Regions from separate parts of the Homo sapiens genome. Here regions 1 and 2 are each linked to region 3. Evidence: fine-mapped expression QTL. A gene starts in region 3. Each other region holds a variant in brackets. All regions are shown on one strand. Distances are from middle to middle.

Region 1 (6,457 bases), 140 kb before region 3:
GTGAAAGGATAGGCCAGGTGCAGTGGCTCACTCCTGTAATCCCAGCACTTTGGAAGGCCAAGGCAGGCAGATCACCTAAGGTCAGGAGTTTGAGACCAGCCTGGCCAAAGTGGCAAAACCCCGTCTCTACTAAAAATACAAAAATTAGCTAGGTGTGGTAGCACATGCATGTAGTCCCAGTACTCAGGAGGCTGAGGCAGGAGAATTGCTCAAACCCAGGAGGCAGAGGTTGCAGTAAGCCGAGACCATACCACTCCACTCCAGGCTGGGCCACAGAGCAAGACTCTGCCTCAAAAAAAATTAAAATAAAAAAAGAATGAAAGTATCCATAATTACAGGTAGATTATCATCAGTTTTCTATTTTTGCTAGATGTTGAAATTAGGTGTATTGAATAAAATACATGGGACTTAAAGCCTGAGTAGCTTCTTTCAAATCCCAGCTCTGCTGCTTAGCAGCTGCCACTGGAGAAGTGATTATCCTCTGAGCTTCATTTTGTTCATCTGTAAAACCCGGCGACCAGCACATAGGAAGAACACAGCAAATGCTGGTGTCATTGAACATGCAGATAAATGAATGATTAACAGTCAATGAATTGAAAACTGTTTACCAAACCCAGGCTTGGAAGATTCAAAACAGAAACAGTGGTGTTGACAGAGCATTATATTTTAATGGATGACAGTAAATAGAAAAAGGGGGTTGATTCTGGAAAAGCGGAAAGAGCTTCAGAAATACTGGGAAGCTCCTGGCTTTTGGCGCTCCGTCTTGTTGAAATATTTAAGCCTCAACATACTTTCTCAACCTCATTGTTAGTGAAAGAAGGAAGTTCTATTAAAGAGAGCAAGAGAAAGACCATGCCTCAATAGCCAGAGTAAATCTAGTTTCCATCACACTCAGGGTGACCGGTTGGTCAAGGCAAAGCAGCATGGATGCTCCTGATGTCAGGATTTTTCTGTCCTGACCTGAGATGCTTCTGGGTGAACCCATCAGACAAGATGCTTTCTCAGACTCAAGTTCAACCACGTGGACCTCAGAGAACGTATAGCATAGTGTTTGTTGTTCCAGCTAGTACCCAGACAGGAGTCACCTGTGTGCATGTCTTTGCATGCATCGCCATGGGGGTTTTCCCAGCTCTGGTTCTCTAGTTCACTCGAATGAACACAGGAGGGATCACAAAGGCCTGAAGAATGTGTGTTCTTTTCTTCTGTTTTCCTGCACAGGTGCTAGTGTATTAAAAGCAAGAGCAAAGGGGCAGCCTGATGGCTGACGAGCTGATGAACAAGAGCAGCAGGTGTGTCCCCGCTGTTCCTAGAGAACAGTATGGAGAGTGGATCTCTCCATCACCCCCTCAATTCCCAATTACATCCCAGTTGTCCCATCCTCAGTCCTGAGGGGCTTTCTTAGTTGAGTCATAAGGGTAACCTCCAGGATGTCTCCAGAGCTAGGAGGAAGTTGCATAATATCAGTGTTTTTTAAGTACTTTTAGAAAGCAGTGACATTCATTTGACAAAAAAATTTAATGTACAGTGATTTCTTTCACTTACTGCTGTTGACTTTTCATAAAAAGATAATCTAAGGTCCCTTCCCTCTAGGATGTATTTACAACCTCCTTGGGGAGTCAAACATAAAAATTAAATAAGAGCTATGGAAGGATTACACCGATATAATTAATTTTAAAATTAGATTGAGAGCAAAAACATTTATTGAGCATGTACTATGCTCCAGGTACCTGCATAGGCACTTTTATTTATTCCTCTGATTGAACTGTCCTGTAAGGCGTGGGATATTATCTGCATTTTACAAAAGACAGCTCTAGGCTCAGAATGGTTAAGTAATGACAGGGTTCAGGACATGCTACCCCAAACTGTGGTACCTTGACACACTGAATATCTTAAGCTGAAGGAATCTGAGAGATGGCACGTGCAAGAAGCTCCCTCTCACCTTTCCCCTCACCTTGCCTGCTGAATCAGGTCGTAAAACCTAAGAAGGATTTTCTGACCTTCTCCTGAAGCAGGTCATCGTAAGACCCTCCTGTGAGCGGTGCCCTCCCTAGACCCGGAGAAAGGGAACATCCTTATTTCTGAAGACAAAGAAGAAGCTGAACAAACAGGCCTTGCTCAGTTTCCCCCAGTTTATTCCCATCAGACCACACTCTTTCCCCAATCACGTTTCCGCACACCTGGCCACTTCTCGTCAAACCTGTTGTACAAAAGAAGCCAGGCTGAACTGTTTCTCTGGGTCATTTCCTTATGAAGGTTCCCGTGTCAAGTAAAACTTAGATTAACTAAATGTGTATACTTTTCTCTTCTTAATCTGTCTTTTCTTATATGGGCCTCAGCCCTGAACCTGAGATGGGCAAGGAAGATACATTTCCTCCCGTACCGTGACAAAATAAGTGTCTTCTCGTTCAGAGTTTCCGATTCCAAATCCAGGAGTCTTTCCACTACATCAAACCTAATGGTAAATATTCAAGCATGTACAAAAGAAAGATCCCTGTAGTTGAGTGCATCCAGAGAAGCGCCTTGGCTCTCCCAGTAGTACTGCTCTGACCTGAGGAAGAATAAGGCCTTTATAAGCACAACTTGGCTGCATTCCACTGGCATAAATCCCAATCAGACAGTCAACCCCCTTCCGCATCCCCATCCTCTGGCCTTTTGAGAAAAGGGATCTGCCCTCCTAAGGGAATGTTCATTTTGCCACTAACAGGGAGCTCTCTGAAAAACGCTGTTTGCTGTCCAGTCACACCTCTGTGGAATCTTTTAACACATGGCGATTCTGTGGCAGGATACCTGTGTTGGTTTTGTTTTCACAGAGTGGTCACAAAGCTGAGTTCAAGGTGAGAAGTGAAAACAATTAAATGAATGGTAGCTTTTTCCACATGACTTTTCACTGCAGTGACCCAGCCCGGTCAGCCCCCGCGCCCGCTCGGTGGCGTGCACTTCCCATGACACACACACTCGTGGTATCCATGAGTGCGTGTCAGGAAAGCAGAAGTGTCACATGGACAAGCGAGTGTCAACAAGAGATGTGCCTCCTCTACACATCATGTGGTTAATGTCCAAACTCACTCATCCCACAGTCACGTTTGACTCTCAGTTGATCACTCTTTGTTCATGTTGAGATTCAACAGGAAATATTGTTTTTACAGGGTCTGGAATTTTAATGAGTCTAAGGATTCCTGATGGTTGTATTGACTTTATTTGTGGGGTTCTCAAAAGGAATCTCACAGTGTAGTCAACAGCAAGGAGTAAGCATTTTCTTACTTACAAAACCAAAGTTATATGTGTGGTACAAAGATGAGAGACTGGGGCCAGGCGAGGTGGCTCACGCCCATAATCCCAACACTTTGGGAGGCTGAGGCAGGCAGATCACCTGAAGTCAGGAGTTTGAGGCCAGCTTGACCAACATGGTGAAACCTCATCTCTACAAAAAATGCAAAAATTAGCTGGGTGTGGTGGTGCACACCTGTAATCCCTGCTACTCAGGAGGCTGAGGCAGGAGAATCACTTGAACCCAGGAGGTGGAGGCTGCAGTGAGCCAAGATCACACCACTGCACTCTAGCCTGGGTGACAAAGCAAAACTCTGTCTCAAAAAAAAAA[A/G]AAAAAAAAAGTGAGACTGGGAGCAGAAAGCAAGCAGTACTCACGCCACACTGCTGGGCAGTGGTGCTTAAAGAAAGCGAAAGAACAAACAAATGAAATACCAGCCTCAATGCAAAAATAAGCTGGAATGGAGGAGGTTTTCCATGCTTTTTGAAAGAGGCTGGGTAGAAATTGTAGTCTTGGGGGTTTTGTTGACAGCAAGAATTTCAGCTTTGCCTTAAGTGTTACTCAGAAGGTGAAATGGATTCAGCCAAACGTTACCATATAAACACAAACAGGCACATTTTGAAAACAGTTCCTGGAGTTCCAGGGAGCTCCCCTTTAATTCATCCCTAGCTCAATGCCGTATAGTTAGTGTTCAACGTCCTTCTAAGAAAAGAACTGAGGCGGTTTATTATTAGTGGTGAAGAACCAATACACAGAAATACAAAGGGTCATAGAAAGACAGTAAGCAACATTTCTGCTACAACAAGAGTCCGTAACCATGCTTTACTCCAGCCTCGGGGCTTCTGAAACCTCCCTAAGCTAAGAAACACAAACACATGTATGTGGGCCCATAATAGATGTAGGTGAGGGCTATAGGTCTCCTCAGCTTCATACCAGGTGGTATGTTACAATGAAAGCAAGTCTCAGACGGAATTCGGCCATAAAATAAACATTTAGAAGCCAGCAGGCTCAAAAACGTGGTACAACCAGTTCTGTAAACTCAACCAAGTACTGGTGCTTTGTTCTGCTGGCACACTGACAGGTGCCTTACATAACAGATTCACTTAAGGCAGATGTGACAGTACTCGAACAGCATGATTTAGCTTCATGTCTAGTCAGGGTCAGGTGCAGGAACCTTTCTATGAGCTGTGGATACAAGTCCTGATTCAAATCCCAAACCAGAGACAGCATTTGGAAGGGCATACATTATCCACTAGGCTTTCTAGGTCATAATACCCTGTTTATGCAAGGAGATGCAATCTGATACAGTGCTTCCAGTCAGCCCATAATATTTTGAACAACTCTTACTTCACCAATGAAAATGACTCCTAAAATCCATTATGCCAGATAGCAAAGCTGTTGGTGTTCATTGAGGATAGAGGAAGTTCTTATAGCTGACTCTCTAGAGCAGGAGCTGCTTCTTCTTTTTTTTTTTTTTTTTTTGAGACCGAGTCCAGCTCTGTCGCCCAGGCTGGAGTGCAGTGATATGATCTCGGCTCACTGCAACCTCCACCTCCCAGGTTCAAGCGATTCTCCTGCCTCAGTCTCCCGAGTAGCTGGGAATACAGGCGTGTGCCACCACACCAAGCTAATTCTTTGTATTTTTAGTAGAGATGGGTTTTCACCATGTTAGCCAGGATGGTCTCGATCTCCTGACCTCCTGATCTGCCTGCCTCGGCCTCCCAAAGGAGGAGCCTCTTAATAGTCTTTCAAATTCCAACAGACCACCCCTGGAGTGTGTATATTCATTCCTGAATAGGGCTCTTCAATATTAACTCGCTGCTCCTGGTTGTCAATTAAAAACCCAGAGATAAATACCACTACCTATGCCAACATTTTTAACCATGAATTGGAACAGTGTAATATTTTTGCTGGGATCTTTGATTGTCTCTTGCCAGAGCCCAGACTGGGGATCCAGGCATACACCTGGGCTCAAGACTTAGGAAAGCCCTCTCTCTTTCCTGGCCTTACAGTCTGGAGTCTTGGTCAGAATCTGCCCATCTTCAAACAGTTATGGCTTTCTCTTCTTACCTGTGCCTTCCATCAACCTTGTGAAGTAGGTGACGGTTACCAGGGTTAGAGTTCAGTTATTTCAAGAGCTTATCAGAGGAATTAAGCAGCAATTTTTTTATTTTTTTGCTTCAAGCTATCAGTTCCAAGGTCAACATGATATCTTGATACTCTTAAATGCTCTGATATTTTTTGATTTGCTGTGAAAGGCACACAATATTAACTCTATTAATGCCAGACAAAATACCGTCATAAATACTACATAGGAAGGGCCCTTGACAAAGACAGTCTCAGTGACCAAACTTTAGAAGGCCCCTCTCAGCCCTCTTTTTAACAGGACTCATCCCTGGACCCAGGCTTCAGCCTGCCTAGTCCAGTTTTAGCAGGGATCCTGCTAAGCCAATTTAGTGAGAGTCCCTCAACCTTGACCTCTGACCACACTGGTCTGCCTTCAGCAAGAATCCTGTTAAAGTCAGTTTAGCAAGAATTCCCCTCCCCTTGATATTTTTCTTGGTAATTACTTCTCTTAATAATTTTCTACCCATCAACCTCCCCAGCCCCCATCTGATACTGACATGGCCTAAAAAACTTGAATATCATACTGCTGGACTGAGTGAGGGTTTTCGAAACTCTAGTTGAGTTCATGAAACTGCTAACCCATGATCAAGCAAAACAAGAATTAATTACATAGGACTGAATCAACTAAAGAAGGAGTATAATTTTTATGGCTTTTTGTTTGGAACATTGCTTGTTCTTAATGTTCTATTTTCTGGACATAAGGAACCCCTTTTCTTTTTCTCTTAAGTTAGCTATAATATGTAACAATTTAGTAGATACATTTCTATAACAAAAATGGAACATTTATCTTTTTTCCTAATCCTTCCATAATTCAGAAACTATTACTGAGTATTTTTATGTTCATGGTTGTATTAGTCTGTTCACACTTTGCCATAAAGAAATACCTGAGACTGGGTAATTTATAAAGAAAAGAGGTTTAATTGGCTCACGGCTCTGCAGGCTGCACAGGAAGCGTGGCAGCTTCTGCTTCTCCGGAGACCTCAGGAAACTTCCGGTCATGTGGAAGGCAAAAGGAGAGTGAGGCGCATCACATACTCAGAGCAGAAGGAAGAAAGAGAGAGTGGG
Region 2 (6,457 bases), 87 kb before region 3:
GAAGAAACTTGGTCAGACTCCAGAGCAGGCTGTTTTCAGACTATGTGAACTCTGAAATGTGCTACATCTTGATCCTTCCACGGCACAACCCGGGTTCTTGGATAGACTTAACATTTTTGCTAAAACCAGCTATTAGGCCTGACCACTTCCTTCCTTCCAGGCACTATTTTCGGAAGCAGAGACACAGTGCCTCTGCACCTGTTGTTCGTGTGGCCACAGAAGCAAACCTCTACAAAACCCTCATTTGTCTGCACAGCAGGACCAGTGATGCCCAAGCCCAGACAGGGAATGGGGGTGGTACCAGTGTCCCATGGGGCCAGTGGGGACCCAGAGGCCAGACAGCCTCACGAAAAAGCATCTCCCCCTGACTCCTGCCAGCTTCCTGCATCTCCTGACCTGAAGCTTCGCACGGCCGGGCTCTCCTCTCCAGGCCTGTGGTTGGACACATTCCTAAGGGGGTGAAGCCAACAGTCCCAGCCCTGTTCTTTTGACACCGGGATGGTGGGGCTCTGGGGAGGAGGAGATCCCAGGGATGACAGCCTAGTAGTACCCAACCTTGATTCACATGCTGGGGTGCAAATGAGTGAGAAGCAGCCTCAAGAAGCTGATGGTGTCACCCAACTGCCCTTGGGAGGGGTCCACTGCAGCCTGGGGACAGAGGGAGGTCAGAGTCACGTCCCACCTGCTCTGATAACTCTGGCCCCAGGCACGTCATTGTACTGTGGGATGGAGTTTCAGGGTGAGGTAGGCGGCTGAACGGCACCATGTAAAAACCAGTTTGTGCCTCCAAACCAAACTGGCACTCAGACATTAGCTGTTTGACCCCTGAATGCCAATGAACTCATCTTGGCTACCTGTGTGTAAACCTTTCCCTAGCTTTTGTCTTTTATCAGGAGAAATCTGGCAGAATAGTGGGGGTTCTTTTTTTTTTAACCTTTTATCTGGGCTTATTTGTCCAAAACTACAATAGCAGGGGGCCTTTAAAGCCTAATGAACGCAGGTTACAGAGTGGCCTCAAGCAGAAGGAACGTCTCATGTTCCATCTCTCTGAATTAGGGGCAGGAGGCCAGCTGGGGCTTACCATCTTTCCATTCACATGCAAAGCACTTCCAAAAGCACAAGTTTGAAAACTCAGACTCCTGAAATCAAATCACTCATCTCCTTCACTTCTAAAATCTCTGTCTCAGTAGTGGTTACATGATAGTACGGTACACTTGGGATTTGGGTGGGGAAAGGGTATTGTTTTAGGGTTTTGATGTCCAAAGAATTTGTATTCCATAGCCATGTGTATTTCTTTTTTACAAATCCTTTGAAATAGACTAAATACCACCTTTGGCAGTGGTTCATCAAAACACGGACAAAACAGTACGGTTGAGGGTGGATTTATTTAGATGTGCAAATGGCATTCCAGAAGCCCCTTTCATCGAGGTGTGTGGATGTGCTGGGTGCTTGCAACCTCAAGGCTGGGCAGAAATACATGTCCCTGAATTCACAGTTCACAGCTGTACAGTGAGCCCATTATCAAGGGAGTGACCCAGGTACTGGCTGCAGAGAATGGAAACTATTGTTCCAAAGGCAGTTACACTGAACTTGAACTTGCTATTAAACGCATACGTGCACACACACACCCAAGCCCATCATCAAAGCCTATCAGCTCACACAAATACCAACCAGAAGCATGCGTCCCTGGCACTTCCTCTAAGTGACGACAAGGTCTGAGGCTTGGGTCCAGGAGCTGCCCCAATGCCTTTGTTTTCCTTCCCCATGTCAACCCCAGGCATCCTGAGACTAGCTTGTTTTCCTGCGTTGCTGGCAAGTATCACTTAGAAACAATACAGGCTTTCTCAGAAGGATTTTAAACATGATTCTGTTTTTCATGGCCTTATTGGCAATGGAGTATCATCTCTGGAACTTAAATGGTGCATTTCCAAGTCCTGAATTTTCTTCCACTTGATGGGCCTTGGGAAGTCTAGTTACGCTACAGAAGCAAGGGGAGGGCAGCAGGAATGGCATTCGGGACCGAGATGCAGGAAGAAGCCCTGAGTCTGTGTTGGGAAGAAGGAAGGGGGAGGAGACCTGAGCTACCTTAAACCCTTTGATAACCAGGCCACGTGACTCAGGGCAACCTTCCGTTGCTGTTTTGTTAATTTATTTAAAATAGGATGACTCAGTAAAACATTTTAGATGTAAGTCTCAAAGAACTGAACTTCTCCATTCAGGACCTGGGGGAAGAGCAGGTCTTAACTGAAAAGTCGGGTGCCAAGGAGCCAGGGAGCATCTGTTTCTTCCTGATAACTCCCCTTCCACTGAGAAACTGAGACAGTCAACGAAAGTGCTCCTTCCAGAAGCAGCCCCGCCTCTGTGTGTGGCATTTCAACTACAACGCATCCGCCAGGAAAATGCTCCAGTTGATTTCCATTCAGGGCTGGATAACTTTATGACCGCTAATTATATCTGCAGCCACACATGGAGATAGGCATAAAAATAGCCTTTTGTCCTTTCATTAAAGGAACCTCTTCAAATATTAACTTAGCAATCTCCTCCACAACCCCCCAGAGGTAGTAGGCGGGTAGCAAAGTTTTCATATTCTGATTTTACAGAGTAAGATACTGGGGATGCAGGGGAGGCTGGTGCTGTGGCTTTCTCCAGGCCAAGACTATACCTTCAAACACCAAGTGGCTGATAAAGACTGGTGTTCTTGAAGTCACCCCTTTTATTCCACAAGACAGACCCCAAGTTTTGAGGGCACGGTCTATGTGTAAGGCCTCGGGTCCTAGAAAGACGAGTGACGGACATGGTGTTAGAGCCCAATACATATTTCCTGTTGTGGAAAATGTCTTATCCATGCACCCCTCTAAGTGACATAAACACAAGACGTTTGTCGTACGTGTAAGCCTAAGGATGAAAACAGGAAAGACACAGAGTGGGGTGAACCTTGCTCACAGCAGAGAAGGAAACCAGTGGCGTGGCTAAAATACTCCCCCTCCACAGGGAATGCTCCCAACACAGAGGAAGACAGAC[A/G]TTTGAGATAACGGATATGCTTACAAGAAAAAAGACCCCCTTCATAGCACAGAGAATTGGGCTCAACTTGTGCCCAACTTGTGCCCTTGCCTCTTAGTGCCACTATGAGCCAAGTAAAGGCATCTTCACATTCAGTCTTCATTTCCTCCACATGAAATGGAGATGAATGCCTATTCTACAGCACAAGTGTGATGAATGAAGACGGGAAGTCATGCAAAACGCTCAGCACGGGCCCCTGCTCAGGCGAGCACTCAAGAGAAGAAGTCAACTGAAGCCTCACAGTAAGAACCTCCACGGTTTCTTGTGGTCAACAAGGGAAAACATTTTGGTCCCCAAAAAGAAACAATCCTTTGTCAGTCCTATTCCGTGATTATGCTCTTTTAAAGCAGACACAGACAAAGCCAGGAGTGATGCCCCTTAAAAATTTAACTATATATCATATTCATTTATTATCAATCCACAGGAAAATCTGATTGCTACATGAGCTCATAAAAGCTTTTTTCACCTTTACAAAATTAAAAAAAAAAATGTGCCACAAGGATGTAATAACAACTGCTGATAAACAAGAAAAGGAATCTTAAAATTATAAATTTGCTGTAGAAAAGATAAAAAACAATTATATTTTATTTAGAATTTTACCTTGAATAAAATATTCCCCTGTATAAAAAATAAAAAAGCTTGCTCTGGTTAGAATTAGAGTATTTTTGTCTTCAAATCTGGGAATTTGCATAATATTTCCATGATACTTTTTCCTTTGTACCGCGTGGCATTCAAGCATAGCAGATTAGAAGGATTTTTTTTAAAGCAGTCTGAAAATGGGACATCTGTAGAGAAATTCATTTCCTTCTTCTCCTCCGGATGTGGAATGGAAGCTTTGAGGGAAGGAAAAGTAGGAAAAGAGCGGGATGGGATGGGATGGGATGGGATGGGATGGGATGGGATAGGAAGAGAGGCTGGGGAATGGGCAGAGAAGGGGGTGCTGAGTGTGCTGTGAGATAGAGCAAGATCACAAGAAGGCCTATCTGTAAGTGCTTTAAGATAAGGTGCAGAAGCAGACTGCAATGTCGCTAGTGCTGCCTATGTACATATTCACAAGAATAAAAAATTCCAGCTAGTTCACATTATCTCGTCCGTTCTGAGGCATCCACTCCACCTTGCTGGCCTTGACCGCAGGCAATGCAGCACCTCCACTGCCCTTGTTGGTCCTTGAACTTGAGTGAGTAGCCCTGGGAGATCCAGCAGGCTCTAGAAACACACGTCTACCAATGGGCTGGAGTCCTGAGTTAAAGAGAAGCTCCAGTACTGGAGTTGGACACAGCAATCAATGTTCTATTGTCAAGGCTTTTTCCCTTAGATTTGTCTAAAATAGGTGTCAGAGAGAAAAAAATAAAATACAAACAAACAACAAAACAAAGCCAAGAAGCCCCAACAACCACCGCGGAGAGTCAGAGGCTTAACAGCTCTTGACGCGGGCCTGGGTGATATCCGATGTTTTCTTGATGACGCTGGCCCGGGTCTCCCGGTCTGGCCGACTGCTGCTGGATGCTGGGGTCATGGAGGAAGAAAGGGGGAGGTCTTGAAAAGGGGGCCAGGAGCTGTTGTAAGGCACCGGATTGCTCTCCTCTTTGATGGTGACCTGGAGGTCCGGTTTGTTGGAAGTGACGAAGGACGCCATGCCGGGCAGCAGGTAGGAGCCTCGAGTCCCCATGTTGCTGAGGTACTGTTTGCCTTCAATATTCCTCTTCCGCCAGTGTGGCCGCCCCTTTCAAGAAAGTAATTAAGATATGTATTTCCTTCTCCTTCTATTGGATGGCTTTTTAAAAATGCATCACTGGCCAGGTGTGGTGGCTCATGCCTGTAATCCCAGCACTTTGGGAGGCTGAGGCTGGAGGATCACTTAACCTCAGGAGTTTGAGACCAGCCTGGGCAATGTAGCGAGTCCTCATCTCTACAAAACGTAAGAATTAGCTAGGCATGGTGGTGCACACCTTTAGCCCCAGCAACTCGGGAGGCTGAGGCGGGAGGATCACTGGAGCGCAGTAAGTCAAGGCCTCAGTCAGCTATGATTGCGCCACTGCACTCCAGCCAGGGCAACAGAATGAGACCTTGTCTCAAAACAACAACCCACAAAAAAAATTTTAAAATGAAAAATGTGTCGTTCCCATGTGTTGGTGCTTTAGCTGAGTTTCTTAAGAACTGCAGAATGAACAAAGGCTTAGCACCTCTACATCCCTCAACTGAAATCTATTGCACCCAGCTATTCATATGCCAAGTAATGGTTTTTCTTCCCTTTTCTTTTTTTTTAAAAAATCAATTCCCATTTGCTACCTCCCAGAAATACTTTCCAGACTACTCTGTGAAGGCAGGAAAAGAAGGCAGCAGCTTGGTTTCTGGTTCCCTTGTGCTCTGCGGCTCGGCCCGATTATTCGATAGGTTTCAGGTCACCATGGCCAGTGTGGCACAGCGACTCGGTCCCTCAATGCTGGCCCAGTCAACCTGAGCCAACCTGCATTTTCAGAGAAAAGGCAGCGAGGAACTTAGTGACAGGCAATGAATGCCCCTTGATTGCTTTCAAATGGGGGCGGCTTAGAGCTCCACGGTGTACAGCAAGCAGCGGCCTCAGGGCTGGCTTCATTCAGAGAAGTGGCTAGAGCTGCAACCTTGAAGAAATCAGGCCAGGGTGTATGGGAGCGTGTACATCTGTCTTTTCAGAATCCCTGCACTTTTTCTCAAAGTGTTTAGTACATGGGAAACCACTAATTCAAACAACCATGAGCTTCCCTCTCTCTTGCTCCCTCCCTCTCTCTCTCTCATTCACTCAAGCGCAGACCCCCAGCAGGTGGCCAGCAGGAATGCTTTCCATCTCCATTCCAGCCACTTTCTGCCATTGTGCACGCCCCATCTATGGGAGGGAGAGGGGACGGGACCCACTCGGAATCGAGATGGGGCACACAACCAGCTCTGGGCACGGGTCACAGCGGGAGGGAACCCACGCACACGTGGAAGAGGCTTTTGCTTAGCATTTTGTGACGTGTACTGGTCACTGCTTTTGGCTGGGAAGGCTGCTCTATTTTTGCCGGTGAAGTAGGATGTTTAAGTGGTAAGAGCATCGGCATTTCCCAGCCTCCACTTCAATTCCCTTTTCCTGCTATCACAGCTTCTCTACCTGATGGTAACATTTAACTCCCTTTCCTCCTTTCAGTTCCAACGCCGAATTTTATAACCCCAAACCCAAAAGTATGGTAAATTCTGGTGATGCATATTTCACCACACAAGAAAATCCCAAAGTGAAGCTTGTGATCTAAAGGAAAGGTGCATAACCAGCAGCAAGGAAAGCCCGGAGCTGGTCGGGAGGCTTTTCCTTGGCAGCATCGTGGGCAGGCTGGGCAGTGGCTTACCTCGGCACTCTCTTCATCGCTGGGCACACTATCAGTCG
Region 3 (6,457 bases):
TTCATATACAGTATCTCAATTGTTCATGAAAGCAACACTTACGAGATATAGTTAAAAATTATTATTATCCTCCTTACAGCTAACCCCAAAAGGTAATAACTATATTTTTTGTTGTTAATGGTCAGCTCACTCACCAGAACACAACCTAGTGTAAAGATGCTGTCTTTCTCGCTGTCAGTTGAGTATACAGAGGCTAGCACTGTGTCTGGCTTATAATAGATGTTCTAAGGATATTTATTGAGTGTGTACATAAATTCTCTTGTCTGCGTTAAGCCCTTTTTGGTATAAGGCAGATAAGGGAACTATAACCCAGATACTCCATTTAGATAGAGTACAGTGGTTTTTCACTATCAAAAGGATATTATGTGAAAATGCTCTAAAAACAACAGTTTTGTACGAGATGATGTTAAGAATAAAAATATAACATCGTTGGTAACATGAGAAAATTGATGCACATCAAATGTGGAGCATCCAAAGTGTCTATTTTTCCAGTAAGTTTAAACATCTTTTGCTCTGGTGCACTATTTGCCTAATAAAGTGTTTCAGAAAGTGGGATAAAAGTGGGACCATTGTTCATAAGGCTGTCAGAACTTCATGGCACGCATGTGTTTGCCATAATTTGCTTCCAGTTTGACTACAGATCCTTACTTTTGATTATGCTGACATTTTTACAGGTAAGTAAATCTGAAATAACTGGAACTTTCTCTAACAAAAAAATGACAACTCACTGAGAATGAAATATGTAAATGTTTAATTTTAACAAGCAGTTACAAATCGTAACAGACAAGAACTCTTGGATCTAAGAGACCAAAATGTAATTTCTTACATAACAGACAAAGTTACAAGTTATAATCGTTCACTAATTACAGTGAAATTCCGGACTTTGACACATCAATCAATAGATGTTCCAACGTTCCCCCTAGAGATCCCAGTTCAAGTCTTAAATATTTCATCTGCTGAAGTTTCCTCAGAAAAGGCTCCTTTTCCCAGGATTTTTTAGGTTTCTACTTTTGCCCCTTCTCCCACTAAAAGAAGAATAAAGGAAAGTTGGGGAAATCAGAGAATCCTGAATCTGCGTGCGTGGTGAAGTTAAACAGAGTCACCCTCTGGGCCTGGTAGGGATAACTGCATCTGCCTAGCATCAAGACTATCCACCGCCTGGTCTAACCCCAGACCCCGTTGTGCACCTGCCCTTAAGCACCAAAAACTGAACTGCTCAAAGAGAACCTGCAGTCGATATGAAAACTAGTAAATGACTGCAGGCTTGACAGCAGTCTCGGTGATGCCTGAAAATCCACAACAGGAAATCTAACTATCCTCCATACCTCCTGGCCATTCATCAAAAGCAGACCGAGTCACAGCCATAAGGAGGCCGGTGGCTGAAGACGAATGCCAGCACCACTTTTCCTCATTTAGAACAACTGAGTTTTTTCCTTCCATAACCAAGGACAAGGAGCAACCGGAGGGAGGAGGTTGAAGAGGGAGGGGGCGGGCAATATGTCCCCAAGTTTCAGACAGTAGCGGGTCAGAAACGAGCGAAAGCCACCTCGCTCTTCTGAGCTACCTCGGCCGCCAGTCCCCGGGATCACATCCGCAGCCGAGCGCCAAGGGTCCGGCCTACACAGACTGACCCGGGCGTTTCACCTGGTGCCCGACCACGGCTCTGGCGCCCTGCCCAGGCTGCCCGCCTCCTTCCCCTCCCCCGCTTCTTAGGGAACAAGGAGGAGAGGGTGGCAAACGCACCCAGACCGGGGGCCAAGGGGAGACGCCGGCGCGTGCTGGGAGGGGCATGAGTTACACCCGCGACCCTTGGAACTTGGAACGGCTTCCCCAGCCCCGGCGGACGCCGGCCCCCAGGCCGTGCCACTGGGAGCAGGCGGGCGCCGCGATTGGCCGCGGCCGGCTTCACTCGGTGGGCGAGCCCTACCGGCGAGGCGGAAAGGAAGTGGCGGCCGCCGCGGCTTTGCACCAACCATGTTCGGCCAGCGGGCGAATGTCACCCGGCGCCCGGAGCCGGGTCGGAGGGCACGGGGCGGGCACTCGCGTCCCCACCCCGCCGCGGCCCGCGCCCCGGGACCCCGAGGGGACGCCGGCCCCCACTGCGCCGCTCGGTCCCCGGAGGCTCCCCGCCCCCACCTCGCCCGCTCCGTAGCCGAGGCGGGTCAGGCCCAGCGCGCGAGGCCGGCCGGGGGCGCCTGCGGGGACCCGGGGGCGCACGGCGCTAGGCCGCGGCCCGGGCGGCTGACCCCTCGGCACGGTGCCTTCCTGGGACGCGCCGCCCGAGCCCCTGGCGCGCTGGGACAAGTGCAATGACAAAGCCCCAGGGCCCGACCGGGCGCTGGCCGGCGGGAAGGAGGACGCGGCGTCCCTTCTGAGCGGCGGCGGCGGCGGCCCAGCCCCCAGGAAGCAGGGCGCGTCGGCCAGGCCCGGCGCCCGGCCCGGCTCCGAGCCCGCCCTCCCGCCCCGGCCGCTGGCACCCGACGCCCGCGACCCGACCCCGAGCCCGGCAGGCAGGCGAGCCCCTGGACCGCCGCGGGGCGCCCCAGCAAGTTTCCTCTGGCCGTGGCTGGAGGCGCTCCTCCCGGCCGGGGAGCGGTGCCTGCTTATTTACGCTGGAGGCAGCCTGGAGAGGCGCCGCCGCGGGCACCGAGAAGGACCCGCTCCCCTCCTTCGGATCCGGTGGCGGCGGTGGCTGCACACACACACACGCGCGCACACACAAACACGCACATACACACAATTTTGTTTTAAATGAGGCCCGACTCCAGCTGACCTGCACCCCCACACACAACACCTGGGGCGCAGAAGCACACACAGCAGGTCTGTGTCCATGGAGCCACCTCTCCGCATCTGCAAATCCAAAAGTGAAATTAAACCTCCACCAACCTCCTCCTCCTCCTCCCTCTCTACCTCCTCCTCCTCCTCCTCCTCGCAGCCTCAGCAGCCCCAGTAGCAGCAGCAACAGCAGCAGAACCTGCTTCCCCTAAAATCAGATGATCCATAATTGCGCCGACTGTTCCTCCAAAAATCAGTATTAATATTTATGAACCCCGGCATTTTCCGTCTGCAAAACATCGTGTCAAGGCATCAGGACACGCATACACACACGGCCCCCCACAGTCCCCAGAAACATGCCCTCGAGAGAAACACACACAGTCACAACTATTATTTGAAAAATGTTACCTCTCAGTGTGCTTTTTTCACGCTACCAATACAATTCCGCAAGGTATAAGTGTTGCTAGGGTATGTGAAATGGAAATGAAAGCCCGTCAGTTGAATAATCGCAGGAGCAAAACTAAAAGTTACTCCCCGGCTTGCCTGAGAACAGTCCAGATCGAAAGCAAAACAAGGAGAGGAAACTGCGAAGAGCCGCGGCTGGAAATCCCCCCACCCCCCGCCCTCCTCCGGCCGCGCTCCCTCCCTCGCCTCCCCTCTCCGCCCTCCTCCCTCCGCCCTTCCTCCCCAGTGTTTGTTTCAAGCTTGTGCAACCGGGAGGTGGAGGCGGAGGGAGGGCGCGAGCGGCCCGGCCGGGAGGTGCGGAAGTTCGCCGCAGCAGCTCATTGGCGGGCAGCGCCGCTTTCATCATTTCTCGGAAAAGTCAATTTCATTTTCGCTTCCCCAGGTCGCGGCGGCGGGAGCAACAAGCAGCGGCTCGTGAGTCCGCGGCTCGCACCCAGGGGCGCCCGCACGTGCGGCTAGAACGTCCGAGTCGGGGTCCGGGGCGGGGGGCGCAGGCCCGCGGCGGTAGGGGAGGAGAGCGGGCACCCGAGTCTCCATCCTCAGGGTGGCCTGAAGGTTCCAGGAGGGCGTCCGGCGAAGGCACGGGGCTGCGACCATCCAGTTAGCAGGGCTGGTGTGACTGTTGAGAGTAAATGAAAATTCGTTTTGTGACACCGACCACCTCCAAGGAATGAAAGGAGCAGTCAGCCGAAACGACAGCATTACTTGCGTCCTTACCTAATTGGAACCTTATCCGTGGCTGAGGGTGCCACCATTGGAGGGGCCGCCGCCCCCTCTGACACCACCTGGCGCTCCGCTCCATTTAGGAGCTAGAACGAAAAGGAGGCCCATCCCCCAGTAAGTCACAGCCCACGCCAAGATGAGTTCTGGAGCCTGTGCGACCGAAGTTTCTTCACCGCAGGGCGAGGTGGACAAGGGTGTGAGTTACTTTGACTTCAAGACGTCTCAGTGGCGGCTGGTTCTGGAGAGAGGCTTTATGCTGGAGCACTTCCAGCAAAGTTCGGCTGGGGCCTCCTTAACTCACTGGCTGGTCACCCTTGGCCTCGGTTTTCAACCAAAGCCTAAGGCCTCAGTTTTCAACGCTGTAAATGGAAATAAATGAGAGAAGAAAGTACAGCCCGTGTGACAAGTGCAGCAAGCAATGCAACTTCCTTGGGACCTACCCTTTGTGGTCCCTTGCTTTAAAAGTATAGATTCACATTTAGTTAGACCTGTTTCTTCCTCGCATGCAATTTCACCAGTCTTTTCCCAGACTTCTGTACTCAACAGAGGAAGTTCCTTCCTGGGAGACCATAGCTGTTTGTATGTAAAGAGTTGCGAAAAAACAAAAGCAAAACAAAAAACTCCAACACCTCTCTGTCACAGAAGTATTGAATTATATAGACTGGAAAAATGGAAGTATCCAAGAAAACGCGTGTGGTAAGAAAATGGCTAAGGTGCAGGATTCTGTTTTGTGGCTCTGGTCTCAGAAATAGACCTCACATACACATTATTCCTTATCCCCTCTATTATAATACTCACTTTTTTTTTTTTTTAAGAGACAGGGTAGGCCGGGTGCAGTGGCTCATGCCTGTAATCCCAGCATTTTGGGAGGCCAAGGCAGGAGGATCACCTGAGGTCGGGAGTTTGTGACCAGCCTGACCAACATGGAGAAACTCCATCTCTACTAAAAATACAAAATTAGCCAGGTTTGGTGGCGCATGCCTCTAATCCCAGCTACTTGGGAGGCTGAGGCAGGAGAATTGCTTGAACCCAGGAGGCGCAGGTTGTGGTGAGCCGAGATTGTGCCATTGCACTCCAGCCTGGGCAACAAGAGCGAAACTCTGTCTCAAAAAAAAAAAAAAAAAAAAAAGAGAGGGTCTTGCTCTGTCACTCAGGTTGTGCTATCATAGCTTACTGTAACCTTGAACTCCTGGCCTTAAGCGATCCTCCTGCTTCAACCTCCCAAGTAGCTGGGACTACAGGCCTGTGACAGTGCCTGGCCCAGGCACTGACTTTCTTATGTCATATAGCAATGACCACTAAGGGAAAGTCTATACAAACTATAGAATAGTTGTCATTCTTTACCCAACCCGGGACACAAGTTAAAAACCTAGTATTCATTTTTTTTTTCCTGTACCAAAACAATCATCTTCCTTTATTTTTCCTGGAGCGGGAAGAGGAGAGTGGAGAAGAAGGGAAGAATGCAAAGTGTCACTTTGAACTTCTCGTTCACCACACACGTGGGAGTCCACTCATGTCAGCAGCCTCCGTGCACAGGCCCCAGGTGAAAGAAAGAATGAGGTCTAGTTGGACCAGCTAACACTGCCTGCCTTGTGTTTACGAAAGGCAGCTGCCTCTGTGGTGTGATTTCAGGGGAGCCAGACAGGGCCGGGGCCACGAACCTGCATCCTGCATCCTAAGCACCTATTGCCATGCGTGAGGCTAACTGGAAACTCACTTGCTGGGTGCAGATAGCTTCCAAACTATTGTGATGCTCATGCTTGACTTCCCAAGGAACGTGTTTCAGGAAAGGCCATTGCCCTCATTATGGTCTTTGATAAGCAGGAAGAAGTTTGTTGTTCCTTTTTTTTCTTAATGCCCTACTTCGTGCAACATACATCCAATCAGTCATATCCTATTGACGCTACCCCTAAATATCTCTGGGCCTGGCCCGTGCTCAGGGCACTGCCTTCATTCAGTTACTGCACTTGCCTGCTGCCTGTGCTCCTGGTCTCCTGCTTGGACTCCCCCAGGCCAGCAGCCACACTACTGCCAAAATCCAGTCGAAAATTAACTTCAGGTAAAGCACAATTCCAAACCTAACACTGCCCCCCTCAAAAGCCTCTCTGTAGCCTTCAGAATAAAGACCATATTATTTGACAAGACACATAAAGTCCATTGTAATCTGGCACCAAACGACCTTTCCAGCCTCATCTCCTGCCATTGTGTCCCACAAGCCCTACATCCCTCCCTTGCCAAACCAGCCTCCGCTCCTTTTTGTCAAACAACAGAGCTGTCCTCTTGTTCATTGTTTTATCTTTAGCATGGTGCCCAGCACACAGGCACTGAAATACTTGTGAATTAATAATTACTTGCTCTTTTCATCAGGCTCTCATAAAATATTTTAGACTTGATCAGAGCCTTGTTTTATATTTTAATAGCTTTTTAATATAAATGTAATTAATGTTTCTTGTACAGAATTTGGAAGATGCAAGAATGGTGAGAGAAGAACATA

Alleles and levels. Alleles are on the strand shown, and positions count from the first base shown. SD is a standard deviation of normalised expression in the study named. Not every link is listed here.
For the expression in monocytes after LPS of the gene that starts at base 3,355 in region 3, allele G in region 1 goes with a lower level than allele A (moderate effect, 0.70 SD a copy in Fairfax 2014).

What was found.
Region 1: its variant is fine-mapped to the expression of IRF2 in monocytes after LPS (Fairfax 2014, PIP 0.95).
Region 2: its variant is fine-mapped to the expression of IRF2 in whole blood (TOPMed, PIP above 0.99).

The regions. Positions count from the first base shown.
Region 1 is chr4:184,327,235-184,333,691 of GRCh38, forward strand. No RefSeq gene overlaps it. Among named protein-coding and RNA genes, the nearest start is that of MYL12BP2, 16 kb to the left of the region's middle. RefSeq lists an enhancer at 771-1,330. The variant A/G (reference allele first, on the strand shown) is at 3,599.
Region 2 is chr4:184,384,284-184,390,740 of GRCh38, forward strand. IRF2 (interferon regulatory factor 2) reads right to left here. Exons shown (of 9, transcript NM_002199.4): 8 at 6,420-6,457; 9 at 3,446-4,783. The coding sequence ends at 4,475. Among named protein-coding and RNA genes, the nearest start is that of LINC02362, 5.2 kb to the left of the region's middle. RefSeq lists enhancers at 1-571, 2,090-2,848, 4,854-5,587, 5,588-6,321. The variant A/G (reference allele first, on the strand shown) is at 3,022.
Region 3 is chr4:184,471,196-184,477,652 of GRCh38, forward strand. It overlaps IRF2 (interferon regulatory factor 2), which reads right to left and starts at 3,355. Exons shown (of 9, transcript NM_002199.4): 1 at 3,184-3,355. It overlaps IRF2-DT (IRF2 divergent transcript), which reads left to right and starts at 3,607. Exons shown (of 1, transcript NR_186573.1): 1 at 3,607-6,109. RefSeq lists silencers at 1,614-1,683, 1,744-2,433, 2,514-2,563, 3,374-3,493 and enhancers at 3,524-3,713, 4,064-4,393.